Linked DNA regions of Homo sapiens: regions 1, 2, 3, 4, 5 and 7 are each reported to be linked to region 6. Evidence: microRNA targets listed by miRTarBase, many of them from high-throughput screens and not tested one by one. Region 6 holds a microRNA gene; each other region holds the end of a gene's coding sequence. Distances are from middle to middle.

Evidence for each region. Region 6 holds the annotated microRNA hsa-miR-520h (ACAAAGUGCUUCCCUUUAGAGU, at 2,396-2,417, opposite strand). A microRNA usually pairs through its seed, bases 2 to 8, with sites in the 3' UTR of a target mRNA and lowers its output. Matches are read on the target gene's strand: a 7mer-m8 pairs with bases 2 to 8, a 7mer-A1 pairs with bases 2 to 7 and ends in A, and an 8mer does both.
Region 1: the mRNA of LEPROTL1 is a reported target of hsa-miR-520h. The part of its 3' UTR that is shown has no 7-base or 8-base seed match.
Region 2: miRTarBase lists KPNA6 as a target of hsa-miR-520h. The part of its 3' UTR that is shown has no 7-base or 8-base seed match.
Region 3: the mRNA of PARD3 is a reported target of hsa-miR-520h. The part of its 3' UTR that is shown has no 7-base or 8-base seed match.
Region 4: the mRNA of ZNF174 is a reported target of hsa-miR-520h. The part of its 3' UTR that is shown has no 7-base or 8-base seed match.
Region 5: miRTarBase lists SMIM17 as a target of hsa-miR-520h. Seed matches in the 3' UTR shown: 7mer-A1 at 3,495-3,501.
Region 7: the mRNA of LACTB is a reported target of hsa-miR-520h. The part of its 3' UTR that is shown has no 7-base or 8-base seed match.

The regions. Positions count from the first base shown.
Region 1 is chr8:30,104,932-30,109,298 of GRCh38, reverse strand. LEPROTL1 (leptin receptor overlapping transcript like 1) reads right to left here. Exons shown (of 4, transcript NM_015344.3): 4 at 775-3,553. The coding sequence ends at 3,437. Among named protein-coding and RNA genes, the nearest start is that of LEPROTL1, 12 kb to the right of the region's middle.
Region 2 is chr1:32,170,486-32,174,852 of GRCh38, reverse strand. KPNA6 (karyopherin subunit alpha 6) reads right to left here. Exons shown (of 14, transcript NM_012316.5): 14 at 1-4,146. The coding sequence ends at 3,959. Among named protein-coding and RNA genes, the nearest start is that of TXLNA, 7.0 kb to the left of the region's middle.
Region 3 is chr10:34,107,961-34,112,321 of GRCh38, reverse strand. It overlaps PARD3 (par-3 family cell polarity regulator), which reads left to right. Exons shown (of 25, transcript NM_001184785.2): 25 at 760-2,761. The coding sequence ends at 1,153. Among named protein-coding and RNA genes, the nearest start is that of LINC02629, 210 kb to the right of the region's middle.
Region 4 is chr16:3,408,148-3,412,514 of GRCh38, reverse strand. ZNF174 (zinc finger protein 174) reads right to left here. Exons shown (of 3, transcript NM_003450.3): 3 at 3,151-4,194. The coding sequence ends at 3,596. Among named protein-coding and RNA genes, the nearest start is that of ZNF174, 9.1 kb to the right of the region's middle.
Region 5 is chr19:56,654,635-56,659,001 of GRCh38, reverse strand. It overlaps SMIM17 (small integral membrane protein 17), which reads right to left. Exons shown (of 4, transcript NM_001193628.2): 4 at 1,755-3,899. The coding sequence ends at 3,789. ZNF71-SMIM17 (ZNF71-SMIM17 readthrough (NMD candidate)) reads right to left here. Exons shown (of 5, transcript NR_163263.1): 5 at 1,755-3,899. Among named protein-coding and RNA genes, the nearest start is that of SMIM17, 14 kb to the right of the region's middle.
Region 6 is chr19:53,740,616-53,744,982 of GRCh38, reverse strand. It overlaps MIR520H (microRNA 520h), which reads right to left and starts at 2,471; the gene lies at 2,384-2,471. MIR517C (microRNA 517c) reads right to left here and starts at 3,670; the gene lies at 3,576-3,670. It overlaps LOC124904765 (a long non-coding RNA gene), which reads right to left. Exons shown (of 6, transcript XR_007067334.1): 2 at 2,716-2,838.
Region 7 is chr15:63,141,504-63,145,853 of GRCh38, reverse strand. It overlaps LACTB (lactamase beta), which reads right to left. Exons shown (of 6, transcript NM_032857.5): 6 at 3,793-4,350. The coding sequence ends at 4,049. Among named protein-coding and RNA genes, the nearest start is that of RPS27L, 14 kb to the left of the region's middle.

The DNA.
Region 1 (4,367 bases), not on the chromosome of region 6:
ATACAAGCTTATAGAGAAGAAATACGAATTTCAATTTCCCACCAATCGTATACATCATAAAGCATCCTGGGATCTAAAACACACATACCACTTAACAATAACGTTGTGTTGCTTGTTAACTTTGGTGCATTGATTAAAAGTTATCTGAAACTTAAAAATCTAGTCACATTCAATATAAATATCCTAGACTTTAGAAATCTGGATTATTTTGGCCAAAGTGTGGTGGCTCACGCCTGTAATCCCAGCACTTTTTTTCGGGGCGGGGGGGTGGTTTGAGGGGGGTTGTGGTGGTGATGGCTTGAGGCCAGGAGTTTGAGACCAGCGTGGCCAACATGGCAAAACCCCATCTCTACAAAAAATACGAAAATTAGCCAGGCGTGGTGGTGCAGGCCTATAATCCCAGCTACTCAGAAGGCTGAGCGGCAGGGCGATAACTTGAGGCCAGGAGTTTGAGACCAGTGTGGCCAGCATGGCAAAACCATGTTTCTACAAGAAATACAAAAATTAGCCAGGTGTGGTGACCTATGCCTGTAATCCCAGCTACGTAGGAGGCTGAGGTATGAGAATCGCTTGAACCTAGCAGTTGCAGTGAGCCAAGATCGTACCACTGCACTCCAGCCTGGGCACAAAGCAAGTCTCAAAAAAAAAAAAAAAATCTGTATTGACAATGTCCCCAAAATCATATTAGAGCAGACATTTAGTGTCCACAGCCTAAACTTTTTAAAGTATATGATAAGATTATAATTAGGACAATTTGGGACACGACTAATATTTGAAAATACAGAACAGTACTTTTCTCTCTTCACAGTGTACCAAACAGAAATATTTTTTGTTTAAAATGTTTGCAAAAAGTAACATGCTATAATAATGAGTGGTAATAAATACATAATAAGAAGTCATAAAAATGTTCTGAAAATTTAAGAAGTAGGACCTTGCCTTTAGATCAGTAGTAGTCTTAAATGTCAACAAAACCTTTTATGACTATTTTTGTAAAAGATTTTGTAAAAATTCTACTTCCCAGATTACCAATCCTTTTACTACAGCTCAAAATTACAGGGCTGCATTGTAATATCTGTAACTATGGTTTCCATTTTATTTTGGAATGGAAACTTCTGCAACTCTAACATTACACCAATGTCATCTTGCTTTACATCACCTTATTAGAATGTTAATGCACTTCAGAATGAAAGTGTGCCATATATTTTCATTTCAAAAACACCCACAAACTAAAATAGATATTTAAAATCTTTATTGTTTCATCATCAAAAGTTTTCTTTCCATAGAAGAATGGTAATATTGTATCAGTGCATATTCTATGGAAAATTCATATCTCAAGTAACTAGCCTAGAAATCAGAGACAGCACTATGTCAAGCTAGTATACAAGGTCAAAGACACAATGCTGCCAATGCAGTTAGTATATAGAAATAATACGCAGCTGTTAGAAAAAGTCTGTGGCCAAGTGGATAAAACAGTAGCAGTGCACTGCACTGACATCCAGAACAGAAAATAGGGAAGGACCAGAGAATGCACTTCCTGCAAAAAAAAGTCCAGTAGATCACAAGCACAAAGAGTTCCCAACTGTCTCACCAGCTCTCTAACTCATGTGTACCTGCACCTTCCTCTTGAAATCTGAACATTATAATACCACAAGCCACTTTCAGCCTCCAGTGGGAAGGCTCCAGCCACACGCCGATATTTCGTCCTGCTTCCCGTCATCTCATATCTAAAAGTCATGGCTTAAGTTAGGCAATAAAACCTGTGGCTTTAGGCATCTTTAGTAAAAAAGCTGAACAAATCCCAAATTTATTCCCATTTTCTTGAGAAATAAACTTCATAAAACAACAGACAGCTGTCATGATTACTGAGTTTTGGCTGATGGCGAAATAATTTTTATGTAAGTATACTGAATAAACATACAAACAAATATCCTTAACAAAATACTGTCAGACCAACTTGAATGTTTTTATAACCCACTCCTGAAAAAAGTCCTGATAATTATTAGATGTAAACGACCACTATAAATTGATCATGCCTGGTTACTGGGAATTTTTTGGTCAGGTATGTTTCTGAAGCTGCTATATAGCTGGACTTGGCTACTTTGCATTAACTCACACAACAAATGCCTTTTATAAGGAAACAGCAGATCTATCATGATGAACTCAAAATCAAAACAGTTCAGAGGTATACAGGAAACTTGTCTTAAAAATACTTTTAAATTACATATGATATAACCTTAGAGAATAAGAACTACTATTACCATGGTCTAAATCTTAAACTGTTAATGCATGAATTATCTGTAAGACTAACAAGTTACTTGTTAATCATGGCAAGGCCTTGCAGGGGAGGGGGCACTCTGAATGTACGGCATAGCAATTATTTTCCAGGTAAGTAAACACTTCTAAGTGTTATTAAACTATATTTGAAAAGTTATTTTATGTAATATATACAACATACCAAATAAGTCAAAAGGAGGAAGCAGAGGAAGGTTTTCTGGCATATATGATGCAAACATACAACTGTCCCTCATCAGTAGTGGTTCCATGTATGTCCATTTTAACAGGGTAAAACATGAAAGGTTGATAGGAGATCACAAATTTCACTTATAAATAGAAACAGGATTCAAAAACTGGAATTTCAATGTCATTTCTTCCCACATTGCAACTCACTCTAACAATAATAAACATAAATAAAAACCTTATCTCAAAAATGTTTTTACACCCTTACCTTAAAGTTTAACATAAATTCTTCTAACAATTGAGAAGAAAAGCACTCCTCTGTAGCAATTCCATAAAATAATTTTCAATCCACAAAACATCTGTCTACCAGTAAAACCAACAACCCTTAACGGAGGGCATGGGCATTAACACTTGGCCCCTCTGAGGTATAAATGCAGCTATATTTGCACTGAGTATACAGTCTATAACGTATGCCAACCGTCTGTATGTCTGCATAACATTGGGAGTGATGTCATCCTGACTGACTGAAAACTTATTTTTATAATTTTTTGTAATAATGGAGGCTAAATAATTTTAAGAGAAAAGATGTACTTGACCAGTAATAGAGCCGGCGGAATTCTGAATTCCTAACCAATGCAAATGATTACATTAAAAAAGTGTTTAACATTGCATATTGATTCCAAAAAAAATCAACCTAACAGGAAAAACACATAAATATTTAAATTCAGCAGGACACCACAAAAAGCATACTATAGATAAGTGTGAAATCAGTCAAGCTTTTCCAAAAGAGAAAATCCTTTTAATCCTTCAGCAAGTCTCTGTGAAAATAGTATGCTTACAATAAAAGTGAGAAGGGAGCACCTAAAATACCCCCAAGAGGCTTGCTATACCATTCAGCATTAACTGCCCCATCTCCTGTGTGCGTGAATGGCCAACAAATGACAGGAAGTCCATTTGACAATAGTTCAGTAATTTCTTTTCACCACTGCTGCCAGCTGAAGTCGTCATTGCTTCCAAAGACCAAGAAAAAGCCTAGTATAGTTGCAAAGATGACTGTGTTTCCTGTGAGAACAAGTGCACAAGCTCCCCACTCAATCTATGGAAATAAGATACACTCAGTCAACAGGCATGAAAAACGAAAGGAAAATAAAAAAAAAAATCAAGGCTCTAGTTGTATCCCAATTATGATCTAAAAGAAGCATGCCTTGTAACAATAATTGTCACAGTGCTGAACACATACTTATAAATATATATAGTATAAATATATATAGTAAAAAAATATATAGTATAAATATATATAAATATATACAGTATAAATATATTTATAGTATAAAAGTGGTACTTTTATACTAGTATTTTCATTTACCTTTGGTTCCTTTAAAAAGAAAGTCATGAAATGACCATTCAAAAACAAGCTTGACTTCTGGGCTATGAAGAAGCAGCATAAAATTCTACAAGTTTCTGTTTATAAAGGAATGTGCTTACTCTTCCTTAATATAAAAATCTATCTAGAGTAGATTAAATTTTAGCATATCACAGATGGAAACACACCCATGTACATTCTTTTGAAGGGGTGGGAAAACAATTGCCTTCTCCATATGGCTGTCTTCTCTACCTCCCCAGAGATGAAGGCGCGTGGATCAGTGAGTTTGGGAGGAAGAACTGAGTACCCGTAGCCAGCCCCTTCCCCTCTTCAGTGCTTTTCTGCCTGCAGAGCACATGCACCTTCTCAGGTCTTCCATATTTTAGGTTTTACAGGATAGGCCTGGGTTGTTCAGCACTGGGGGAGTTGATATGCTCAACTCTGACAGTTAAGTATTAGCAAGCCAGACGGGTGCGGTGGCTCATGCCTGTAATCCCAGCACTTTGGGAGGCCGAGGCGGACGGATCACGAGGTCAGGAGGTCGAGA
Region 2 (4,367 bases), not on the chromosome of region 6:
ACTAAATTCTAGGGTAGTTCTATTGAAGATGTTTACCATGGTTTAGCGCACTGAGCCCTGCACCCTTCCCCAGGCTGCCAGGGAAGCAGAGAGGTACAAACATTCCTAATGCCCCAGTCAGCCTGTTCTCCCTATGGGGTCCCTGGATTACCTGCAGGGACCTGGGGGAAATTGGCTCCCTGTCTTCAGCTGAGAGTCTGGAATCTGAACCCTAGATGAATCTACTGAAGAATGCTCAAGATGATGGATACCAAGCTGAGTGAGTCTAGGGGAGAAGAGAGGCCTGAACAAAAGAGCTGGGGCCTTCAAAGAGGTGTATGAGAGGTGAGGTTAGTAGTGCCAGGCTTTCCTATCTTTTCCTTCTAGTTTGCTAGAAACAAGTACAACTTTAGGGTGTGGGGGGAAGGCAGGTAGACATGAAGAAATGGAAATACAGTTCATTCTGCTAGACATTTTAAACTGGTTTGGCTTGAGAAAAATAGAAAGTCTGTGCCTGAGAACCTTCTTTTCCTCTCCCTTATTTAAGTACAATAGCAGCTATAATCTGTGCAGTTCAGCTCCAAAAAACAGGGCTCCTGGAAGATGGCTTTCATGGCAGAGAGTTGATGGGGTAGATTAATGGGCTCTAGGTAAGGAGCAACACCAAGGGTCCCTGAAAACTGAGGCCAACACCTGCTCCCTGGGGGGGGGCCATTTGTATTCCCTGACCCATGTAACAAGCCTGGCCAGCTGTGGGTGGAATCCATGTGGTTCTATCAGAAGGCTGCAGCCAACATCAAGGCCAGGCAGTCACCAGGGTCAGCTGGGATCTGAAGGGAGGCTTCTAAGACCAGACACCCTGTTAGTACTAAAGATGATGATTTGGGGGTGGGATGCCTGGAGGGGCTGGCACCATTCAAAAAAGTATTGGAAAACATTAGCCAAGAAAAAGGCTCCTTGTCCCTCCTAATCCATATCCAGATACCCCCAACCAGAGATCTTAAAAAGGATAGACCAGCCATATGCCAACATGCCAGGATTCCAAAAGCATGCCTCAACTAATTAGGGTATTCCCTACAGCAGACTGGGGTAGAGGGGCTCCATCCTGGCAATAACCAGAGAGCCTTACCTCGCCTAGGCCAGGGTATGGAATCTAGATGAAGACTGTCCACAAACAGTGGCTCTCAAGCCTGGGCTAAATAAATAATATTTTGCTTCATTACATGGCCAAAGGAGAGGAGGAGATAGAAAAGATGATATTACTACCTCTGTGGGCTGGAAGAACTTCACCTGTTGGTTGAAAGGGGATTAAAGGAAGATAACAGGAAAACCTGGTCTGGAGAAGACATAAATGAAAGCTCCTGGAGGCCACTTTTCTCTGATTAGAAATCTATCCTCACACTCTGCCCCTAGTAGACTTTAGCCTTTGGAGTTCTTAGGGAAAACTGGCTTTAAGCAGCAGCCAGATCACCAAAAACATTTTCCATCTGGTACAGGACCCGGAGCTGAAGCCAAAGTAGATTTTGGAGGAACAGCTGGACAAGCAGGATGTGTATGTCTTACACTAAGAAACTGGTCCCTGTATCAGGGACTTAACTCTTACTTGAGATGTACAAAGTAGATCCTACTAAATTGCCCTTTGGAAGAGAACAATGGGCGGAGGTTGGGTAGGGGAAGGCTTTTTTTTTTTTTTTTTTTTTAAACTGTAAGAGAATGGTTTTTTAATGGAGGTAGCAGGCCAAGTGAAAAAAAGATTCTGCCCCCTGCCTTCCTGGGAGATTGGGAGTTGGCAGCCATCATTCCCAAGCTGATGAGTGGCATATGACTCACCAAGGTGGTACAACATGGGTGGGATTTTTCAAGGACAATTGCCAGACCTAAACCATCCTCCTCAGAAAATGGCTTTGAAGTGGGACTGCAGCACTAGGAGAGGGCAAATTCAAGATCAATGGCCAATAATAAGTACCTGAACTTTAGGTCTATAAGCAGAAGGGCATGGATTTCACCTGAGCCAGAAGGAGATGTGTAGCAATAGAAGCAAGAATGGCATTGTTTCAGAGGAAGGAAAAGCAGAGCTTGGAGCAGGATGCCTCTGACTAACCACAGTGGGGAGGTGGGGGTGGGGCAGACTGTGCCTTCAGCTCCACAGCTGGTCTACACCAACTTCCTCTACTCCCATCCAAACAGGTGGGCTTTACTATCATATGTAATCCACCCAGAGGCACAGGCAAGCCACTAAGGCAATGCACTACCGTAATTCAAACAGAAAGAAGAGGCATCTGGATTATAATTGTCACAAGGAAGGGAAAACCCAAACCAGGTACAAGGATCCCAAACAGGGAAGATACGCAATAGCTCTAAAAAAAAAAAAAAAAAAAGCAGGCTACTAAGTTTCAGTGATAATAGATAATAGGAGAGGCAGCCATGGGTGATCAGTTATGTGGACAATGGCCATTGAGATTGAATTTGACAAGGCAAACTGCTTCTGAGTTTCCTGATACAAGCAGGATGTTCAGCAGTAAGGACAGAGTAGCAGACTTCACCAGGCCCTGAGGCCATCCTTGCTCCCTTCAGGTCCTGGGACAATCAGGCCACGCTGACCTGCTTTATGAAGGTTCCAGAGCTGAAGGTTGGTCCCAGGTGGTGGTCCAGAATCCAAGCAGAGAGGAAAAGGACCAAGCTCAGGCCTCCTGAGCGAGGAAGCATCCATATCTCTTTTTGGTCTTCCTCACAGTATCCTACTTACCGAAATGACAGACAGTTCTTCCTCTTGAGACCAATTAAGATTGACCTACCTAATATATAGAATATAAAAAAATACAGAACTTTTTGACATTCTCTCCTTTAGAAGTAAAATATACATGATCCAACTATGGAAGAGGAAGAAGAAGAAGAAGAAAGGCCAAAGGCAGGGATCCCTGACTATCCCAATACATGACACTCTCACTCCACCCTCCTCTGCAACTTACAGGTCACCAGAGCAAGGACTTTCTCCTCAGGAGAAAGGAAGGACCACAGCCCCCTATCTCAAGCTTAGGAGAAAATACAGCCACCTCAGAGGTTCTCTCAACCTCGAGGGGGAATTTTCAAGTAAACAAATGAAGTTGGGTCGCACCATTTGGAAGGTGAGTAGGAAATATGGGATCAGTAGCTACACGTGGGAAGCCCCATCTGAAGGCCTGTGCTCCTCCCCTGCACTCCCACTGGTATACTTGAGACACTTCAGGAGAGTGAGGAGGATCCCCCAAACTAAAGAGGTCTGGGCAAAGAGTCAGAGGGAGGGAGGGACCTTTGTTTCATGGTAGCCTCCCCAGCCTCTAGTCCCAGGCAATGCAGGCAGCTGGGTTTACTAAAACCAGGAACTTGTGGCTCTTGGGAAGAGCAATCTTAATACAAGAAAAATGTGCAAAAGAAAAAAAAATTAAATAACTCAATCCAAGCGTACAAGATTAATATTCTGTCAGAGCAAGAACACTTTGTTTTGGATTTCTCCCTTCCCCTCCCACCTCCCACCTCTGGAATATACCGTCTGCTCAAGTACCCAAGATAAGAGTTACACAGATCAGGGCAGAGGACCGGGAAGAATGAAAAAAGATAAAGGGAAGGAAGTCACCACTGAAGAAAAAAAGAAAAAAAATAAAAATAAAAAAAGGTGCAAATTGATTACCTTAGTCCTCCTTTGTCTACCCCTGGGCTCCTGGGTTAAAGACATGTGTGCAGCCAAAATATAGTGTAAGGAAGAAAAACCCAACACGTCCCCTTCTTGTCACAAAACCCAAAGGTGAGCCTCAGATGGTTCTGTCTGTCCAGAGGGTGCTCCCTCCAGGGAAGGGGGCGGAGCAGGTCAAGAGCACAGTCTCCAGGGCAGCAGAGGTGTGTGGTGGCTGATGGTGGGGACACTGGTTTCCCGCCCACCAGAGGGCTGCTCTTCCGCTGGCTGGTGGTGCTTCCCATCCCCTCCCCTCCCTGGAGGCAGATATTATAGCTGGAAGCCCTCCATGGGGGCCTCAGGCTGCTGGAAGATGAACTGCTGTTGCGTTTCATCGACTTGGGGAGCCAGGCTGCTATCATCGTCTTCTACACCAAAGTAGTGCTCAATGAGGTCGAAGGCCTTCTGGTAGATCTCCTGGTTCTCGTGGCTCTGGAGAAACTCAATTTTATCCAAGCCTACAGTAGTAAGAAGGAAGGAGAGGGAAGTGTGAGTGCTTTTCTATGGGCAGGTGAAACATTTACCTATTTTTCCTTCCCTGAGGTATGTTAGTGCTTACAAACACAAGTCATATGATCAGATCACTCTTGGACCTGAAAGGGGAGAGTTAAGATTTCTTCTCAAAACTACAGAATCCCAAAGGAAAGAGACCAAAATGTCAGTTACAGAGGTTCTAGTC
Region 3 (4,361 bases), not on the chromosome of region 6:
ACTCTGATTTACTTGCCTATCCTGGGGTGACAGAAAGCAAGTTAAGTAGGTCACCCTGGCCTTTGGTGAAGGTAAATGTATAAGAAAATAGTGCTTACTTTACAGACTTCCGGACTCTCCGTCCAATCTGGATGAGCAGGTATCCCGGAGAGTGTAAGTTGCTGACATACACAACTTGAAAGCCAGAGCTTTAAGGGACTGCCTGTTGCATTTTTTATCATAAAGGAGTCTAGACTTAAATCTTTCATAACCGAACTCATACTGTAATCCATTACATGTACTTCATATTAGCTAGCGCTTCTGGCATTATGGTGGCAGCTGTGTAAAATATTTGTTGTGCTTGTTTAGAATTGAATTGTAATGTTCTAAAGCGAGCAATTATTCCTACCATGGAAGCTGCCAAACCTCTAATACTTCTATACTTTGCCAGTGTGTCTAAATTGCAGGAGATATTGGTACCCTAAGCAGAACAGACACAACCTTCTCAGACACAGGAGGATGACCCTGTTTCTAAATAGCTGCACAGTCTAGTTCTCTCTCCTGTTTACTCGTTGTTAGTTTAGTTGTCTAAGACTATGCGCTTGCTGAGGACAGTCATTTTTGAATTCTCCAGCCCCTATCGCAGTGTCTGGCATGTGATGAGAGAACAGGAATATTTGTTGAAAAGTGAAAATGCATATTCCATCCCATCCTGCCCCCTTTCCTCCCTCTCCCTCCTTCTTCCTACCCTCACACTAACCTTTGGGTTTTGCTTTCTAGGCAAAGCAGGAAAAATGCCAGCTCGGTCTCCCAGGACTCTTGGGAGCAGAACTACTCCCCTGGGGAAGGCTTCCAGAGTGCCAAAGAGAACCCCAGGTACTCCAGCTACCAAGGCTCCAGGAACGGCTACCTGGGAGGACATGGCTTCAACGCCAGGGTCATGCTGGAAACTCAGGAGCTCCTTCGCCAGGAACAGAGGCGGAAGGAGCAGCAGATGAAGAAGCAGCCTCCTTCCGAGGGGCCCAGCAACTATGACTCGTATAAGAAAGTCCAGGACCCCAGTTACGCCCCTCCCAAGGGGCCCTTCCGGCAAGATGTGCCCCCCTCCCCTTCTCAGGTTGCGAGGCTGAACAGACTTCAGACTCCTGAGAAAGGGAGGCCCTTCTATTCCTGAGCACGCAAATAACGGATGCTTCATGTCGCGCAATAAAAGACATTTTCCTATGAAGACTTGTATTTTGGGAGTTTTTTTAAAACCTCGATGGTACTATGGAGTATTTCTGTTGTTGGTATCAGTGCCTTTAAGCGGTGTAGGCAAAGAAATGGAAGGCCTTAATGTCTTTGCCACTATGTCTCAAGTGTCTGTTTCATGGAAGGATTTCCCACCCTGTGACAATCATCTGTTTGAGGTGTTCATATGCTCTGCGCCTCTCCACAGTACCAGGAATCTCGGCCCTACTCATGAGTTGTCCGCGGCTTGGTTGTAACATCCCTGCACCACTTGCAGTGACAAATTCACCTGAAGTGGAGGATGACGTGCGGCCCTGTTTCTCCCTCTAAGTTCTCTTAGCTATGGGATGACATCTTAGTCTCTGGTGGAGGAAAAGTGGGCGACATACACCAAAAATTGGGGCTTTCTGGTACTTCACAGCACAGCCATTTGTCGTACTTTGTCATCACTGTGGTTTTCTCTTTCCTTTCTCAGCTCTTTGTGACGGGAGAGTCGGTCATCCTATTACAGAAGCTAAGCCATAGTCCAACATTGTTTGGTCACCATGGGGGTCCTTTTGTAACTGCCTTATGACTCAACATTACCAATAAAGTGATGATCCTGGTCTGCGTTTATACATACGCTTGTTCGGTCCTGTTCCTGACACGTGGGTTGAGTCACCACAGCTCTGTGTGGGGAACGTGGGAGACAGGAGTGGCTCCTGCCGGGGGAAGCTGGGCCTGCCATTGGCCCTGTGTCTATCATGAGGGGAGAGCTAAGAAAGAAATTCTCCTAGGAAGAGCTCATGGCCCAGTACATCCTAGTAATTATTTTAATTAGTTTTTGTTCTGACAGCTTGTCAGGAAGGGCACAGAATGGGACAGAGATAAACCAGACAGTCATTTTGATCTGCTCTCTACGGTTTTTCAAGTCAGAGGCAATTGATGCTTGTCTAATGCATCCACACACTGCATGTCTGACTGGCGATGCCGCGCTCCTAAGTAGTTCTGCCATGAAACATAAAAGACAAAGGAAAAGCCGTTACACATCACACAGAGAACATTTTCGGGTCCCACAGCGGTGGTGGCAGGAAGCTCACTCTCGCGTCAGTATTAGAGTGTGTGTGTGGGTCTCGGGGATCTCGGTGGCTCCCATCTTCCTTCATTGTTCTGAACATCCTGTATTGTAAACCATGGCTGGGGTGCTAAAGTGCCTGTGAATCCCGATGTGGAAAAAGCTGGAGGTGAAAGCTCAGCATACCATGTATTTACTTTAAAAACAGAAAAAAAGACATGTATGGATATGTCTATTTTTTTTTTATTGGCACATTGTATTTTTGTGTTGACTTGTTTTTAGAAATGATGTGTCCACACACGTACCCGTGTCTCTTCTGCATTTCTGTGTCATGGTTCTGTTTCTTAATCACGTGCGGCGGTGTCTAAGTGGTGTTACCAGTGTACGCGCAGTGACCTTGGATGACAGTGGCTCTTTCTCACAGCCTCCCCTGAGCTGTGAGAAACAGCTTTCTCTGTACATATGCAACTCCTAATAAAAGGCATATTTCTTCCTGTTCTTTTGGTGTCTCTGGTGTTCCTGGGCAGCCTTGCCTAGCTGGGCTTTTTTAAAAGGTCTATTAACAGATGTGATTTTTTTTTTTTTTTTATATTTAGAGAAAGTTGGAAGTTTCCTCACATCTGAGGAAAGTTTGCAGGAAAGGGGGCAGGAGAACCCTGGGGCCCACTCTTGGATGAGGATGGAGAGGGGGGACTCACCTGTCCCTTGGAAAAGATGGTCCCCATTATGACATCATTCTCACTCTTAGTCCATTAAGACAATATACAGTCTTACAGTTGGAAGTCTCAAAGTGGGAAGTTTGCAAACACAGGAACTGGTGGTTGATTGCGTATTTGAGCACCTGAGGAGAGAGGGGAAGGGGAGAGACAAGAACCTTCATGAGTCCACTGCAAGGCCCAGGCTGCCTGAAGAAGCCTGAGGAGTTCTGAATTGAAGGAGCCAGTACAGCTCGAACTAAATGAATGAAAAATTATGCAGAAAGCGACATGATAGTCCCATGACTGCCCTTTGGACCCTTGGAATCATCCTAGCAAGCCAGATGTTTTGATTGAGTCCTGGCCTTGAGTCCTGTGAGCCCAGAGAAAGGTCCAGATTCGAGTCCACTTCCAGTACAAACCTGGTTCTTATTTCCCAAATTACAAAGTAAGGCTTTGCTATTTCTTTAAGAGGGACGCCCACAAATATGCATGCGGCATTTTGAAGGCATAAAGGGTGCTATGTCCCTAGGTATGTCTAGTGCACAAATATAGGAGATTTGGTCCCCACACAAATGGCAGACTTTGCGAGGACCTGTCAAAAATGCCCTCTTATGGAGCACCTAGCATCAGTGGGTTGTCATAGCAACGCTCATCCTGTCACTACATCCAAATTCTATCACCTCGAGATTAGGAATGAGGGGTGCATGGCAAGCCGAGGCAATACCACCTCCTTGGTTCTTTCAAGCATGCCAGGTGTGGGAAGTGAAAAGGGAAGATGGACAGGTTTGTTCATTTTCTCCCTGAGCAGGAGGCCCATTGCTAATGCCAAAACACATGGCTTATTTGTCTCAACTGACAGCGGACAGCAGAGTAGGAGAGGCAATAATCACATGTTGTGGGGACCCAAGTCACAAAGGGACCTGTGGGTTGAAACTGACAGTTTGAGCGGCACTGGGAAGAGAAGTAGGAATGGTCCACAGAGAAGTCAAAATAGGCTCCATGAAGCAACCTTGACTCAGCGGACCAGCCTCCTGGCTTCAGGACCTTTTGCTAAGACACAAGGGTATCCCCTGGGAGGGCGTGTCCCAAGGCGGAGCCGGCCCGGGTGCTGTCAAGATGGGCACTGGAATCTGCCCAGCAAAAATTGCATGAAAGGGGAGCCAGGGAGACCCTGGAGCCCACTCTCAGATGAGGATGGAGGTAGGGGAACTCACCTGTCCTTTGGGAAAGATGGTCTCCACTATGGCATCATTTCTAAGTCCATTAAGACAGTATATAGTCATTTGTATTAGAAATTATAAAAATAATACTGCATAGCATATCTATATTATATGTAATTGAAGCACTGCCATCCACCTTCTCTTTCTGTGGTCAGACCGACGGCAGCTCAAAGGTCAAAG
Region 4 (4,367 bases), not on the chromosome of region 6:
CCTCTAGAACGATAAGGTTGTGGGTTTTTTTTTTTTTTTTTTTTTTTTTTTTTTGAGACGGAGTCTTGCTCTGTAGCCCAGGCTCTGGAGTGCAGTGGTGCAAACTCGGCTCACTGCAAGCTCCACCTCCTGGGTTCACGCCACTCTCCTGCCTCAGCCTCCTGAGTAGCTGGGACTACAGGTGCCTGCCACCACGCCCAGCTAATTTTTTTTGTATTTTTAGTAGAGACGGGGTTTCACTGTGTTAGCCAGGATGGTCTCGATCTTCTGACCTCGTGATCCACCCACCTCGGCCTCCCAAAGTGCTGGGATTACAGGCGTGAGCCACCGTGCCCGGCGGTTTTTTTGCTTTTTGTGTTTTTTTGTTTGTTTTTGTTTTTTGAGTCCAAGTTTCACTCTTGCTGCCCAGGCTGGAGTGCAGTGGCACAATCTCGGCCCACTGCAGCCTCTGCCTCCCATGTTCAAGTGATTCTTCTGCCTCAGCCTCCCGAGTAGCTGGGATTATAGGCGTGCACCACCACATCCGGTTAATTTTTGTATTTTTAGTAGAGACAGGCTTTCACCATATTGGCCAGGCTGATCTTGAACTTCTGACCTCAGGTGAACTTTTCACAACCTTGGCCTCCCAAAGTGCTGGGATTACAGGTGTGAGCCACCACGCCCGGCCCCAGTTTGTGTTGTTTTAAACCATTAAGCTGGTGGGTCATCTGTTACCACACCACAAAGTACCTAATACAGATGTGACTATGACTTGGAGGTTATTAAGGGACAACAGTGAAATCAGCCTGGTTTCAGTAGGGTGAGGTGGAAACACAATGAGGAAGAAAGAGGCCTTGACCAGGGAGAGGTATCAGGATGGAGCCAGGTATGGGGCAGCTCGGATACAGAAGCTAAATTCTTCATGATCTAACATAACAGATGGGAATGGGATCAGGGCCTAAAGTACCTAAAGGACCACAAAAGCTGTAAGGAAGGCCACTGGGCCTTCAATAAGCCTCTGCCCAAAAGACAGAAGCTCACCTGTGCATTCAACAGATTGTCACCAGGATCTCTGAACTCAGGCAGACATGGGCCCTGTGGGTACAGTGGGGATTCTCAACTGTTCACATACTGAACATCTGTTTCTCTTGGCTGGTTATTGACAAAGTCCAGAAGCTAAAGTTATGGAAAAACAATGTTCTTGTTTTGAAAGAGCTGTTATAGTGCATGGTAGTTTCCCAGCCTTGGTGATACTGATTTTTTGAGCCAGGTCATTGCTGTGGGGGCTGGCTGTCCCGGCACTGCAGGCGGTTCAGTAGAACCCACTAGAGGCCAGCAACAAGCCTCCCTTCCCCAGTCCTAACAACCAAAAGTGTCTTTGGACTTTGTCCGACAACCCCTGGGGGGCTCCCAGTTTGAGCACCCCTGGTGTATGGGGTCTAGCAGAGAGGCTGGACCCCAATTTTCACAGAAGTCTGCCTAGGGCTCCTCAGGGAAGGCTTTGAGAGAAGGAAACTCTTGTGAGAGGGAGGAGGCAGGAGGGAGTGGGGAGCATCAGGAAATAAAGGCAAAGGAAACAATTGTGTGCAAAGGCCCCAAAGAGGACTCATAGGTGTGCATATGTCCCTCGGCAGTTAGAAGGGACAAGAGATTCCTTGGGGGGTACAGAAGAGCTCAGCCCACAGCCCTGAGGTGACTGGTAGTTACTTGATGATACTGATGTTTTGTGAAGAATGCTACCTTGCTGAGCGTACATCTGTAATCCCAGCACTTTGGGAGTCTAAAGTGAGAGGATGGCTTGAGCCCAGGAGTTCGAGGATAGACTGGGCAACACAGTGAGACTCTGTCTCTACAAAAAAATAGAAAAATTAGCCAGGCATGGTGGTGCATTCCTGTAGTCCCAACTGCTCGGGAGGCTGAGGAGGGAGGATTGCTTGAGCCCAGAAGATCGAAGCTATAGTGAGGCATGATCACGCCAGTGCACTCTAGCCTGGGCAACAGAGTGAGACCCTGTCTCAAAAAAAAAAAATGCTACTTGCTTCTTATTTTCTGCATCAGGAATGCACTAATCTGCCAAAAGTTTTCTCTAAACTGAGCAATGAGCTAGGAATTGTATACTGATTTGCATTTTAATTTCCGCTTTGAGAAAACGAGGAGGTGGCATTAGATGATCGCTCAGGCTTATTTCCAGGGCTCATTTTATATAAATATATTTTGTCACTTAAAAATACGCTGTTGAGGTACAATTTACATATCATAAAATTAGCCCATTTCAATTATTTTTAGTAAATTTACTGAGTTGTGCAACCATCACTGTAATCCAGTCTTAGAATATTTTCATTACCCCAATCCTTTTGCTATTTTTTTTTTTTCCTGAGACAGAGTCTCACTCTGTCATCCAGGCTAGAGTGGAGTGGTGCAATCATAGCTCACTGCAGCCTCTAACTCCTGGGCTCAAACAATACTTTTGCCTCAGCCTCCAAGAGTAGCTAGCTGGGATTATAGGCATGCACCATCATGCCTGGCTAATTTTTGTATTTTTTGTAGAGACAGGATTTAGCTACATTGCCCAGGCTGGTCTCAAACTCCTGGGCTCGATCACCCTGCCTCAGCCTCTCAAAGTGCTAGGATTACATGTGTGAGCCACTGTACCCCCATTGCATTTTGTTATTCTTAAAGCTAATGGGCTAAGTGAGAAAGGAGAGTGGGAAGAATTCCCTTTTATATCTCCTTAGTACTCTTTGTCCACTACTTGCTTCTCACTGTAGCTTTTCCTTATGTGTTAGGCTGGGGTTGCAGCAACTGTGTAGATTTTTTTTTTCTCAATCAAAGGTGCTTTGAGAACAGGCACGGTGGTTCACACTTGCAATCCCAGCACTTTGGGATGCCAAGGCAGGAGCATTGCTTGAGCCCAGGAGTTCGAGACCAGCCTGGGCAACATAGCGAGACCCTGTCTCAAAAAATAAAAAGGAAAAAAAAAAGGTGCTTTGATACAAAAAAGATCCCTCAAATGTAATTTTCTTTTCTTTTTGTAAAAGCACCATCTAACTACTTGGAAACTCTTCTCGCACAAACGTGCATATTCTCATTTAATTCATCCTTTGCTATAAACAGCTAGTAATTACAGAAAGAATATGAGGGATCTATTTTCCAATTAACTTTGCCTTGAAATTCTGGTAGATCACTCATCTTTATTAAAGAAGTGTGCTCATGATAAAAAATTGTCTGGTATGACAGCAAATGCATAACTATATATATAGAATTTATCCCTTAACATATTTTAGAGGATAAAGCAACAGAGGGACGATTTAACAGTAAGCGGGCCACCTGCAGGATTGTCCTGATTCTCTCTCAGTAGTTACTCCTTGCTCTCTGCAGAGACTTAAGTTCTCTTTGCCCCAGTGCCCAGACCTGCCTTCTCTTCACCCTGTCATCATGCACGGTTGGGCCCTGGTTGGCCTTTTCTGGGCCTCCTCACAGCAGAATGTGCATCATCATTCCTCAAGGGCCTCGTGCTTTCCTTGTAAGTCACACAGTTTTTGTGATTTACATGCAAGTAAGGGGGAGGAGAAACACAAACACCTTCCGTGTGAATCTAAAGCATGGAGTGCTCCTTTTAGTCCCCATGGTGAAGTCGGTGATGCTGGTGAAGGTTTGAGCTCTGGCGAAAGCTTTTCCCACACTGGCCACACTGGTATGGCTTCTCTCCAGTGTGGATCCTCTGGTGCAGCTTCAGGGTTGACTGCCGCCCAAAGCAGTTTCCACACTCTCCGCACGTGTAGGGTCTCTCTCCTGTGTGGACTCTCTTGTGTCTCTTCAGCTCTGAATTCCACGTGAAGCTTTTCCCACAGTCATCACATTTGTAGGGTTTCTTTGCTGAGCGGGTGGGCTGGTGACCAAGATGTTGCAAACGGTTGCTCAGACTCCGTTTACCTCCTTTGCTTTTCTTTAGCTCTCTCAGTGGGTGGCTTTTTAGGGGGCTGCTGATGTATTCCACCCTGCAATGTCTCTGGTAGTGAGCAAATGGCTTTTGAGCATTTGGGGAGCTGACCTGCCTCCGTGACAACCGAGGTTCACTCATATTTGCCCCTCTTGGTTCAGGATTCTGCAGACCATTCCCTTTGGATCTGCCAGCTGACACTGCACATGGCTTTGCTCCTTTAGCCCCTTCCTGTTGTGGATTTTCCTTGTTGTCACTTCTCATTCTGGGGGCCTCTATAATTAGAAAGAAAATGCTTCATTTTCTGCACTTGGAAGAAATAACTTCAGCAAGAGTTATGAAATACTCTGAGAGGTTTCTCAAAGGGTGGCCCTCCGCTGGCAACTTGCATTAGACTCATCTGGAGCACTTGTTAAACAAGCAGGCTCTTCACCCTTCCCCCAGAGCT
Region 5 (4,367 bases), 2.9 Mb from region 6:
TGGGACTACAGGGGCACACAACCATGCCTGGCTAATATTTTTATTTTTATTTTTGTAGAGACAGGGTCTCACTATGTTGCCCAATCTGGTTGATTATGTTTTAATGGGATCTATCCAGCTGTCGGGTAGAGAATGGAACGTCAGTGGCTTGAGTGGATACTTCTGTCGTCAATGAAATTAGGTCCCTGGCATACTGTAGAGCTAATTAGAAGACCATTGCTAATGTGATTTATATTACTGATAGTATCATGATTCTTTTTTCTTTTCTTTTCTTTTTTCTTTTTTCTTTCTTTCTTTCTTTCTTCTTTTTTTTTTTTTTTTTTTTTTTGAGACAGTCTTGCTCTGTTGACCAGGCTGGAGTGCAGTGGTATGGCACAATCTCTGCTGCTCACTGCAACCTCCACCTCCCGACCTCCCGGGTTCAGGTGATTCTTCTGCATCAGCCTCCTAAGTAGCTGGGATTACAGGTGCCCACCACACCTAGCTAATTTCTTTGTATTTTAGTAGAGACAGGGTTTCACTATGCTGGCCAGGCTGGTCTCGCACTCCTGACCTCAAGTGAGCTGCCCACCTTGGCTTCCCAAAGTGTTGGGATTATAGGTGTGAGCCACCATGCCCGGCCATGATTATTTTCAATATTCCACAAAATCAGTCAAGACCTGTGGCACTGTCTGAGCTAATCAGAGCCCAGTTAGCCCCCCAACATCATCCCCTATTTTTCATTTTTGGGTGCTTTTTTTTTTTTTTGAGACAAGGTCTCACTCTTTCACCCAGGCTGGAGTGCAGTGGCCTGATCATGGCTGTCTGCAGTCTCAGCCTCCTGGGCTCAAGCAGTCCTCTTGCCTCAGTTTCCCTGAGTAGCTGGGACTACAGGTGCATGCCACCATGCCTGACAATTTTTATTACTATTATTTTTTGTAGAGACAGGGTCTGACTGTGTTGCCCAGGCTGGTCTCAAACTCCTAACCTCAAGTGATCTTCCTGCCTTGGCCTCCCTCCTGGGATTACAGGCATGAGCTACCATGCCCGGCCCATCCCCTGTTGACTGGACACCTAAGACAGTCTCCACACTTATCTCCCTGCTTCCGCCTTTGACCTGCTGCAGTCCATTCTCCATCCTTTACTTGGGCAGTCGGTTTATGTCTCAGGGCCTTTGCAGTTGCTGCTCTCTCTCCCCTAATTTCAGGACTCTTGTCCCCAAGGCAGAACAAGGATGCGAGTTGCAGGTGTGCGTGATGGGAATCTGCCAGGTCTCCCACCTTGCCGTGTGGAAGAGATGATCACAGGGTCCATGATAGCTGTCTCCAGCCATGTAGAAGGAAGAGAGGGAGGTGAGGAGAGGAAAAGCCCCAGTGATATTTTTAGGTCCCCCAGAACCAGCTGTAAATAAAGCCAATTTTATCCTAAACTTTGGTGTAACATGAACGAATAATAATAATAATTATTATTATTATTTTGCTTAAGCTCATTTGAATTGAGCTTCTCTTATTTCCAGTAGAATCTCAAAAAATGTAATAGTTAAGGCCTGTTTTCCTTTCTCTTAAGGGCTGGTTGCTTGTTGCAGGCAATCAGCCTGAGAGAGGAATGGAGAGATAATCCATACTTTTCCCTGTTAATTTCTCTAAAGAACCTCATATACATAGACAGAAGAGCGCAGGATGATAATATCAACCAGTATTAGACAAGGTAAAATTTAAGGCAAAGGATTAAATTGACTGAAAACAATCATTTTATATTTAACAAAGGATTCAGAATCAGGTTTTAATTAACATTTATTGAGTGCCTACTATCTGCCAGCCATTGTCATATGGTGTTTTACATATATTATTTAATTAACAAGGACATAACAATGCTGCACTTATATGCCTCGAATTACACAGCTGTTGAGTACATAAAGCAAAGATTATAAAAATTTATTAGCAAAAACAATTGTACTAACAAAGTTTCACATAACCTTATTGGTTTTTAATGAATATAATAGGCCAAAATTAGATAACACATGAATCTGAACAATATAATTGACGATACTGAGTTAACTAACAGGCACATAAAGTTTTCAGTTCTACAGACAGAGAAGATATCTTCATCTTAAATGTTCGTGAAACAATTACAAAAAATGGACATGTTCTAGGCCACACTAAAAGCTTTTTAAAAAGTTTTGGAAGCAGATGTGTTATAGGCCACATTCTGTGTTCACAGTGCAGTAAAACAAGAAAACAAAACTATTTTTAAACAAAAAATAAACCAAATCACTGAGTTTCAAAGCACTCTTTAGAAACACTACAATGTAATATTTAGACACACTACAATGTAATTTTTAGACAACATAAACAAAAATGAATAATCAAATGTTAAGATGTGGCCAACGCTATATCCAGAAGTACATTTGCGTTAATAAGTATGCTATTATAGAAAATATAAAGAGAATATAAATCAAGTATTCAGTATAAAAACTGAGACAAAGAAGAAAAACAATAAAAAATAAATGCAATACATATCAAAGAAAAACAAATTACAAATAAAAGAAATAATGGATATAAATGAATCCTAATGTTGGTTCTTTGGAAAAACAATAGTAAGCTAGATAAACCTTTGACAAATCTAATAACGAGTAAACCACAAACAGCAGTTTACAGGAAACAGGGGATAGAACAAAATAAAGAGAAATTTTTAATTATAAAACATTATGCATAATTAAGCTAATAATATGAAAAAGCTCTATGGAATGAAGAATTTTCTAGAGGATAAAAGAACTCTGGGCTGGGCACGGTGGCTCACATCTGTAATCCCAGCACTTTGGGAGGCCAAGGCGGGCGGATCACGAGGTCAGGAGATCGAGACCATCCTGGCTAACACGGTGAAACCCCGTCTCTACTAAAAATACAAAAAATTAGCTGGGCATGGTGGTGGGCGCCTGTAGTCCCAGCTACTTGGGAGGCTGAGGCAGGAGAATGGCATGAACCCTCTGCTTACAGTGAGCCGAGATGGCGCCACTGCACTCCAGACTGGGTGACAGAGTGAGACTCGGTCTCAAAAAAAAAAAAAAACAAAAACCTCTGTAATTCGCCAAAATAAATGCAAGAGGTAAAAAGTATTAATAAACTGATAACATTGTAAAGAACTAAGAAAGCTGCCCAAGAATTAGCTGAAACGTTCTCTCCATGACTCTATGACCTGGTTATAACAATGAATTCATGTAAGGTGTCAAGGGACTGATACTTCCTAAGCTACAGAAACTATTGAAAAGCATAGAAAAGGTAAAAGTTACCCAAGTCTTTCTATGATGCAAGCTTAACCATGATACCAAAACTTCACAAAGATAGCACCAATCTCACATGTGAAGATAGAGGCAAGAATCCTACATAAAATATCAATAAATATAATCTAGTGTATGAAAAGACTGGTGCACCAAAACCTTAAGAATGCAAAGTTGGTTTGATGTTAGGAAATGTACCAGATTTCATTGATCTTCAGTTGCACATTTTTTCATCTTCTCAAAGTCAGGAGATATCTTCCAGTTGGTGGCATCTTAATGATTAATTAGCACTTTTCTTTCTCCGTGGTATACAAAATAATGTTTTACAATCAATGATGTCTTCATTTCATGGAAATAAAGTATGTGAAAACTCACACCAAAAATTTTTTAAAAATCATCTCAAAGGATGTTTGAAAGGCATTTGAAAATATTCAACACCTATTCCTGATTTTTAACTAGCACAATTCCTTAACATGACATAGGGCATCTATTTCATTAAATTAAACTTTTAAAACAACAGCCACCATTATAGTTAAATGTGAAACATCATAGGCATCCCCGTTAAAACCAGGAACAAAAAAAGCACGCACACTACCAAGACTATGGTTGTTTGTTGTGGAGCTTTTGACCACTCCACAAAGCCCTGAAACAGAAAAAAGGAAAAGGATAAATATTGGAAAGGAAGGGGCCACCATTGTTACTTGCAGGAAAATAGACTTATATGATCAGAAATGAAATGTCATATCAAGAGAAAAGCTGTTTGAATTTAAAACGGTACAACTGAGTAGATATAAGATAAACAAAAGAATGTAACATAACTATGCTCTCTCAGAGGAAATGTTCGAATAATGGGATGACAATTTCAAAATCTCACTGGTATATTAAATCTCAGTTTTAACATACCATCTATGCTCTAATGACCCCACCCCCTCAAGAGATATGTGTGTGCTTGCATATGTATGTGTATTTGTTGACCCAACTATATATCTCACTGCCTATTTGCCATCTCCAGTTGGATATCTGATGGACATCTTAAACTTCACATGTCCCCAAACAAATATTGTAATGTCCCCCACAAAAAAAAGCTCCTCATGCAGTTTTCCTCCCATTA
Region 6 (4,367 bases):
TTTTATGTCATTTTTATTATTTATTTATTTTTGAGACACAATCTTGCTCTGTGGCCCAGGCTGAAGTGCAATGGTGTGATTTCAGCTCACTGAAATCTCCTCCTCCTGGGTTCAAGCTATTCTCCTGCCTCAGCCTCTGGGTAGCCGGAATTACAGATGTGTACCACTGCACCCAGATAATTTTTGTATTTTTAGTAGAGACGAGGTTTTGCCATGTTGGCCCTGTTGGTCTTGAACTCCTGACCTCAGGTAATTCCTGTCTTGGCCTCCCGAAATGCTGGGATTACAGATGTGCACTACCACACCCCGCCTTTTTTTTTTTTTTTTTTTTTTTGAGACGGAGTCTTGCTCTGTCACCCAGGCTGGAGTGCAGTGGTGCGATCTCAGCTAACTGCAAGCTCCGCCTCCCGGGCTCAGGCCATTCTCCTGCCTCAGCCTTCTGAGTAGCTAGGAGTACAGGCGCACACCATCACGTCTGGCTAATTTTTTTTTTTTTTTTGTATTTTTACTAGAGACAGGGTTTCACCGTGTTAGCCAGGATGGTCTCAGTCTCCTGACCTTGTGATCCACCCACCTCGGCCTCCCAAAGTGCTGGGATTACAGGCGTGAGCCACCGCGCCCGGCCCACACCCAGCCTATTTTTTACTTTTTTGAGACTGAGTCTCACTCTGTTGCCCAGGCTGGAGTGCAGTGGCTCAATCTCAGCTCACTGAAAGCTCAGCCTCCTGGCTTCAAGTGATTCTCCTGCCTCAGCCTCCTGAGTAGCTGGGATTGCAGGGGTGCACCACCACCCCGTCTGGCTAATATCTATATTTTTAGTTCAGACGAGGTTTCATCATGTTGGCGAGGCTGGTCTCAAACAACTGACCTCAGGTGATCCTCCTATCTCAGCCTCCCAAAGTGCTGGAATTACAGGCGGGAGCCACCGTACCCAGACTAGTCCCATCATTAAAATTAGGGAAAAAACAAAGATGCCCACACCTGAACAGCAAATCATTTGTTGTTCAAGGACATCTCAGATACATTGTTTGTCTAAAATACAAGTTTAACTGAGGGCCCGGTGTGAACCAAATAATGGTTCTTACATTCTTCTTGTCTGTGCATGGGTTAATATTCACATGTAGTCCCATCTAGCAAGGACTGCGGGGGGCAGAGGCAGGAGGATCTAAGCCCACTTTAGCCAGGGTGGCATAGTGAGACCCCCGTCTCATGCATTTATTTCCTGGTCACGCACCCAAGATTTCAGCTTCATTTCCCCAATAAACACTGAAGCCCCATGCACTCCACCTCCGTGCTCTTGCTCATCCCATCTGCAGGGACACTGAGGTCCCTTCAACTCCACCTGACCCCACGTGAGGTTCTATACCAGTGCCAGAAAAATTTCGATAAAGTAAGAGGTGTTGATGGCCACGCACCATGGCTCATGCCTTTGGGAGGCCGAGGCGAGCAGCTCACGTGAGTTCAGAGGTTTGAGACCAGCCTGGTCAACATGGTGAAACCCCGTCTTTACTTGAAAAAAAAAAAAAAAAAAAAAAAATTCAGGCCGGGCATGTTGGCTCACACCTGTAATCCCAGCACTTTGGGAGACTGAGGCAGGTGAATCATTTGAGGTCAGGAGTTCGAGACCAGCCTGACCAACATGGGGAAGCCCCATATCTACTAAAAATACAAAATTAGCCAGGTGTGGTGGCACATGCCTGTAATCCTAGCTACTCAGGAGGCTGAGGCAGGAGAATCACTTGAACCCAGGAGGCTGAGGTTGTATGGGCCGAGATCATGTCATTGCCCTCCAGCCTGGGCAACAAGAGTGAAACTCCATCTCTCTCTCTCTCTTTCTCTCTAACACACATACACACACATACGCACACATTCGAAAAGCAGTCAGGCGTGGTGGTAAGCGCCTGTAATTCCAGCTACTCAGGAGGCTGAGGCAGGAGAATTGCTTGAACCTGAGAGACAGAGGTTGGAGTCAGCCGGGATCGTGCCATGGCCCTCCAGACTTGGCAACAGCAAGACTCCACCTAAAAAATAAATAAATGAATGAATAAAAAAGAAAAATACAAATATTAGCTGGGCATGATGTCAGGTGCCTGTAATCCCAGGAAGCTGAGGCAGGAGAATCACTTGAACCCAGGAGGTGGAGGGTGCAGTGAGCTGAGATTGCACCACTGCACTCCAGCCTGAGTCACAGAGCAAGACTCTGTCCCAAAAAGGACCATTTGAGCCCAAGAGACCTAGGTTGGAAGTGCCTCTGTACTCCAGCCTGGGCCACAGAGACCCTGTCTTAGAAAACAAAAAAAACCCAGAACCCCAACATCATCCAAGTCTGATGATAAGCATGCAAATATATTACCAACATCAGCATCAACTTCAACACTGCTTTTCCCAAACAGTAACTCTAAAGGGAAGCACTTTGTTTTTTCTCAGACAACAAACAGAAAGTGCTTCCTCTAGAGGGTCACAGCATGGGATCTTCTTGCTCCAGCACTCTGGGTTTCTTGTTGGAATTTTCCTTGACCAGGTTAAAATACACACAAAATAAAGATGCATTTATTGGCCCTGTTTGCATATTTTCTGGAATCCAGAACATAAACCCCTAAAAGGACCATCTCCAGTTCCTTGCTTCAAAGGCTCAGCAGGTTAGCCTTGTTCACCAAGGGGCAACCCTCCTGAGTTTTGTCCCCAAAGAGAAAAAGCAAAGCCTACTACACATACCTTATATTTAACCAAGAGATTAGGGCAGAATTTCCAGAGAACAGCAATGGATTTTGAGCCAAGTGTTCAGCTGAGTTCCAGGACAGGGGCACACAGTCCCGATGGAAGCATCCAAAATGGAATCTACAATGTTGAAGAATATACATTGTCTCACACACAAACATCCTCCAAGATAGACCACAGTCTAGGCTGACTCTACAGGACCATTTGAGATTAGGGGTGATGGCTCACAGCTGTAATCCCAGTACTTTGGGAGGCCAAGGCTGGTGGATCACCTGAGGTCAGGAGTTTGAGACCAGCCTGCCCAACATGGTGAAACCCCATCTCTACTGAAAACACAAAAATTAGCTGGGTGGGGTGGTAGGCACCTGTAATTCCAGCTATCTGGGAGGCTGAGGCAGGAGAATCACTTGAACCCGGGAGGCCGAGGTTGCGGTGAGCCGAGATCGCGCTATTGCCCTCCAGCCTGGGCAACAAGAGCGAAACTCCGCCTCAAAAAAAAAAAACAAAAAAACAATAATAATTAGCAAGACCTGATGGCAGGCAACTGAATTCCCAATGATTCGGCAGGCTGAGGTGGTAGAAACACTGGAACCTGAGAGGTGGAGTTTCCGGTCAACAGAGATTCTGCTACTGCACTCCCAGTGAAACCAGAGTGGGTCTCAAAAAATCAAAAAATAAAAAGAGGACCACTTGAGCCCAAGAGATCTCGGTTGGAGGTGCCACCCACTCTAGTCTGGGCAACAGAGACACTGTCTTGGAAAAAAAAAACAAAACAAACAGAACCCCAACATCATGCACGTCTGATGATAAGCACGCTCTGCAAATGTGTTACCAAGATCAGCAGCATCTTCAACGTTGATTTTCTCAAACAGTAACACTCTAAAAGGATGCACGATCTTTTCTTAGACAACAGACAGTGCTTCCATCTAGAGGGTCACTGCCTGAGATCTTCTTGCTCCAGTACTCTGGGTTATTTTTTATGTATTTATGTATTTATTTATTTATGTATTTATTTTTTGAGATGGAGTCGCCCAGGCTGCAGTGCAATGGTGTGATTTTAGCTCACTGCAATCTCCTTCTCACGGGTTCAAGAGATTCTCCTGCTGCCGCCTCCCACGTAGCTGAGACTACAGGTGTGTACCACCACGCCTAGCTATATTTTGCATTTTTAGTAGAGAGGAGGTTTTGTCTTGATGGCGGGGCTGCTCTTGAACTCTGACCTGAGGTGATCCACCCGTCTCGACCTCCCAAAGTGCTGGGATTACAAGCGTGTGCCACCGCACCCGGCCTATTTTTTATTTTTTTGAGATTGAGTCTCACTGTTGCCTAGGCTGGAGTTCAGTGGTGCGATCTCAGCTCACTGAGAGCTCAGCTTCCCGGCTTCCTGTGATTCTCCTGCCTCAGCCTCCTGAGTAGCTGGGATTACAGGCGTGTACCACCACCACACTGGGCTAAGTTTTGTATTTTTAGTAGAGATGGGGATTCACCATGTTGGCCAGGCTGGTCTCAAACAACTGACCTCAGGTGATCCTCCTGTCTTGGCCTCCCAAAATGATGGAATCACAGGTGTGAGCCGTGGTACCCAGCCTTGTCCTATACTTAAAATTAGGAACAAAAAAAGATGCCCACACCTAAACAGCAAATCATTT
Region 7 (4,350 bases), not on the chromosome of region 6:
AACCTTCTGGTATCCACTCCTTTCTACAGTCCTCTCCCACACCAAATCAGGGTTGGTTTCTGTAACCAACAGAATTTGGCATAAGTGATGGCATATGGCTTCCAAGGCTGATTTATAAAAGACATTGAGGTGTTTCCCTGTTTCTTCAATCGCCTGCTCTAAAGGGAAGCCATAGCACAGACAAGCAGACCTATGGAGAGGGCCATGTGGTGAGAAACTGAAAACTCTTGCCCAAAGCCAGCAAGCCACAAAGACCTCTTGCCCATGGCCACGTGGGTGAATCATTTTGGAATCAGATTATCCAGCCCCAGTCAAGCCTTCCCTCAGATGCCTGAAGCCCCTGCTGACATCTTGTCTACAAACTCATGAGACCCTGAGCTAGAAACACCCAGCAAAGCTGCCCCCAAATTTCTGAAACACAAACTGTGAGACAATAAGCTTTGGGGTAATTTGTTATGCAGTAATAGATAACTAATACACATTATACTACAGGAAAAAGCTCAAGACACAGAAGGCCAGATATGGTGTGATTCCATTTATATGAAACATCCGTAACAGGCAAATCCAAAGAGATAGAAAGTAGATTGCTGGTTACCAGGGGCTGGAAGGACAGAGGAATGGGGAGCAAATGCTAATGGGTATGAGGTTTCTTCTTGGGGTGAAAATGAATTGGATAGTGGTAATGGGTACATAATCTCGTGACTATACTAAAAACCACTGAATTGTACACGTTAAAGAATTTTATGGCATATGGACTGTGAATTATATCTAAATTACGTGTGTGTGTGTATGTGTGTATGTATTTGGAACAGAGCAGCGGATGGAAGTTGGAAGGACTTTAAGGAAAGTGTTAATGAAAACCTGAAGAGCCTTGAAGAAATTGTTGAGAAGTATGGCCTTTGAAGAGGCTGCAGGTGTAGTCTTAAGGAAAGTAAGAGAAATCTTATTGGCAATTAGAGGAAGGGATTCTTGTTTAGTACTGACAGAAAATTTAGCAACACTGTCGCCAGGAGTAACTCAGAAAACAGAAAATGTGCCTAATGAATTGGGTGACTAGCTGATGGGATTTCCATATGCAGTGTTTTTTTTTTTTTGTTGTTGTTTTTTGTTTTTTTGTTTTGAGGCTGGGTAATTTATAAAAAGAGGTTTATTTGGCTCACGGTTCTGCAGGCTGGACAGGAAGCATGGTGCTGGCATGTGCTTCTGGTGAGGGCCTCAGGAAGCTTACAACCATGGCGGAAAGAGAAGGGGGAGCCCGGATGTCACAGGGCAAGAGAAGGAGCAGAGAGCCATACACAGTGTTGAATGTGCTTCCTTAATTCTTGTTGCTTATACTAACATGCAAGAGAAAGATAAGCTAATGGAAGAACTATTGGTAAAGAATTAATAATTGATGGTTTAAAAAATTCCCAGACTCTTCAGATTGCAAATGATGCCAAAATTAAGAAATGGCTTCAAGGCAAAGATAATAATTGAGGGCACTTCCAGGAAAACATAGTCTAAAGATGATATTGAGGGCATGACTATACAATCCTTTCTCAAGACTTCAAAATGAATCAACATGGTGCTTCAGAGAACTATTTAAACAATAGAGTTCATTAGATTATTAGCGTAATTAGTTCTTCCCATTATCTTGGCAGAGACAAGCCCCAAGTTAGAGAGGGGATATTCTGAAGGGACTTTGGGGTGGCTTTTGTCTACTGGCATAAACCCCAATAAAATTCACAGGATACTCTTAACATTTTAAAATATTATATTGTCAGTTAATAGGGTTGCTAAAAAAAATTCAAAAATTAGAGAAATAAAATATTATATTGGCAGAACCACTGTTAACTTAGATGGAAAGGAAAGAGAGTATAAAAAGGCCTTTGGGTCTCCAAACTTCTACAAGTGGAAAGCACACTGAGAAAACCACTCAGCTAGAAAGATACGCTACCTTTCATGAAAAAAAGGTATGGGGAAGCGGCCAGGCTTAGTGGCTCACGCCTGTAATCCCAGCACTTTGGGAGGCCGAGGGGGGCGGATCACCTGAGGTCAGGAGTTCGAGACCAGCCTGGCCAACATGGTGAAACGCTGTCTCTACTAAAAATACAAAAATTAGTCGGGAGTGGTGGCACGCACCTGTAATCCCAGCTACTCGAGAGGCTGAGGTGGGAGAATTGCTTGAACCCAGGAGGCTAAGGCTGCAGTGAGCCGAGATTGTGCCACTGTACTCCAGCCTGGGTGACAGAGGGAAACCCTGTCTCAAAAAAAAAAAAAAAAAAGTAAAAAAGAACAATTAAAAAAAGTATAACTCAGGGGCTGGGTGCGGTGGCTCATGCCTATAATCCCAGCACTTTGGGAGGCTGAGGTGGGTGGATCACTTGAGCCCAGTAGTTGAAGACCAGCCTGGGAAATATGGTGAACAGCTGTCTCTTAAAAAAAAGAAAAAGTATAACTCGTAAGGTAGAACTAAGAGCCCAGAGAACATAGCCAAGAACTAAGAATTATTCTGAAGCCTTGAATACTAATCAGAGTTGCCAACCTCTGTCTGACTGAATTTCAGAATTGCCAGTCTCCTGTATGTCTTCCACTTCCCTACTTTTTGAAGAGGACGGTATCTAGCAATTATCCTATATCTGCTGTGCTACGGTATGTTACACATATGGGGAGCAAATAACTACAGTTCACAGGTCTTAAGAGAAACTACTTGAGTTGCTGTACCTAAGGAACTCATCCCAAGGAGCCCTCATTCACACTTGCACCTGACCTGATTTAGATGATAAGATACTGGGCTTTGAGCTGATGCTATATTAAGGTGAAACTTCTGGAGGATTTGAAAGGAGGTAAGAGTATTTTGCATTGGGAAGGACATAAATCATTGGGGACCAGAGGTCAGACTGTGGTACCCAACTTCCAAGTTGACACCCAGTGATTCCTGCCTCCTAATATTCACAATGTATATAATCTCTTCAACATTTATTAGGCCCCATGTAACCCATGGAATTTGGCAAATGTGATGGTATGTGACTTGAGGCTAGTTTATAAAAGAGTGACTTCTGCCTGGCACTCTCTGTCTCATCACTTACTCTGCGGGAAGCCAACTACCATAAGATACTCAAGCAGCCCTACAGAGAGGTCCATGTGGTGACAAACTGAGTCCCCTTGCCACCCACCAGCCAGAGAACTGACTCTTGCCAGCAGTCATGCAAGTAAGCCATGTGGAAGCATTTCCTCCAGCCCTGGAGAATTCTTCAGATGATCATAACACCTTGTCTGCAACCTCATTAGAGACCGCGCCAGACCCACGTGACTATATTGCTCCTGATTTCCCGATTCCTTCTCTGAACGTTTCTTTTAAGCTGTAGTGGATAACTAATATACCATTTCTCATGCTTTTGTTTCTGCTCTCATATTAAAAGGATATTTGGGCTGGGCACAGTGTCTCACGCCTGTAATCCCCAGCACTTTGGCAGGCTGAGGCGGATGGATCACCTGAGATCAAGAGTTCGAGACCAGCCTGGCCAACATGGCGAAATGCTGTCTCTATTAAAAATTCAAAAAGTGGCTGGGCATGGTGGTGGGTGCCTGTAATCCCAGCTACTTGGGAGGCTGAGGCAGGAGAATCGCTTGAACTCAGGAAGCAGAGGTTGTGGTGAGCCAAGATCACACCACTGCACTCCAGGCTGGGTAACACAGCAAGAGTCCATTTCAAAAAAAAAAAAAAAAAAAAAAGAAAAGAAAAAAAACCTCGGATATTTGGAGGCTCCTGTTGAATGAGATTTTCTCTGTATTACACATGCAGAAAGTACATATTTTATCAGAATATTTTATTTCAAGAGTTAACACTTTTTTCAAAAAGTAAAAACAATATAATTACTTCCCTGAGTATAAAGAACCAATTCTACAATAAAAGACCATTACAAAATTAAGCAATTAGAGGTACATAATTCTCTGCATTCAGTTATACTCTATTTCAAATTTATTCTTAAAAATGTCATGTTTTGGAACTTTAATGTTTCAAAAAAACCTCAGAACAACTCATTTTGCACCTATGGTGTTAAGGTTATCAGTCTGATCTGTCTTTATCAAATTCAAGGGCAATCTTCAAAGCGGTGCTATTGAGGCCAACAGATTGCATGTTACATATGATAGAAACAATGATTCCTCTTGGGGGAACCTTGTTATTTATAGTCTCTGTATCCAGTTCTTCAGGAAGGACCAGCAGGACACTACTGGCACCCACTGCCCCTCCAGTATGTGAAGCATAATGCCGTTGCTTTCTACACGAACCATACGTTTGTTTCCTTTCCACAACACCCCACGCCATTGCATATTTACCCTCTTTATCCCAAGACATCTCTGTGTTAG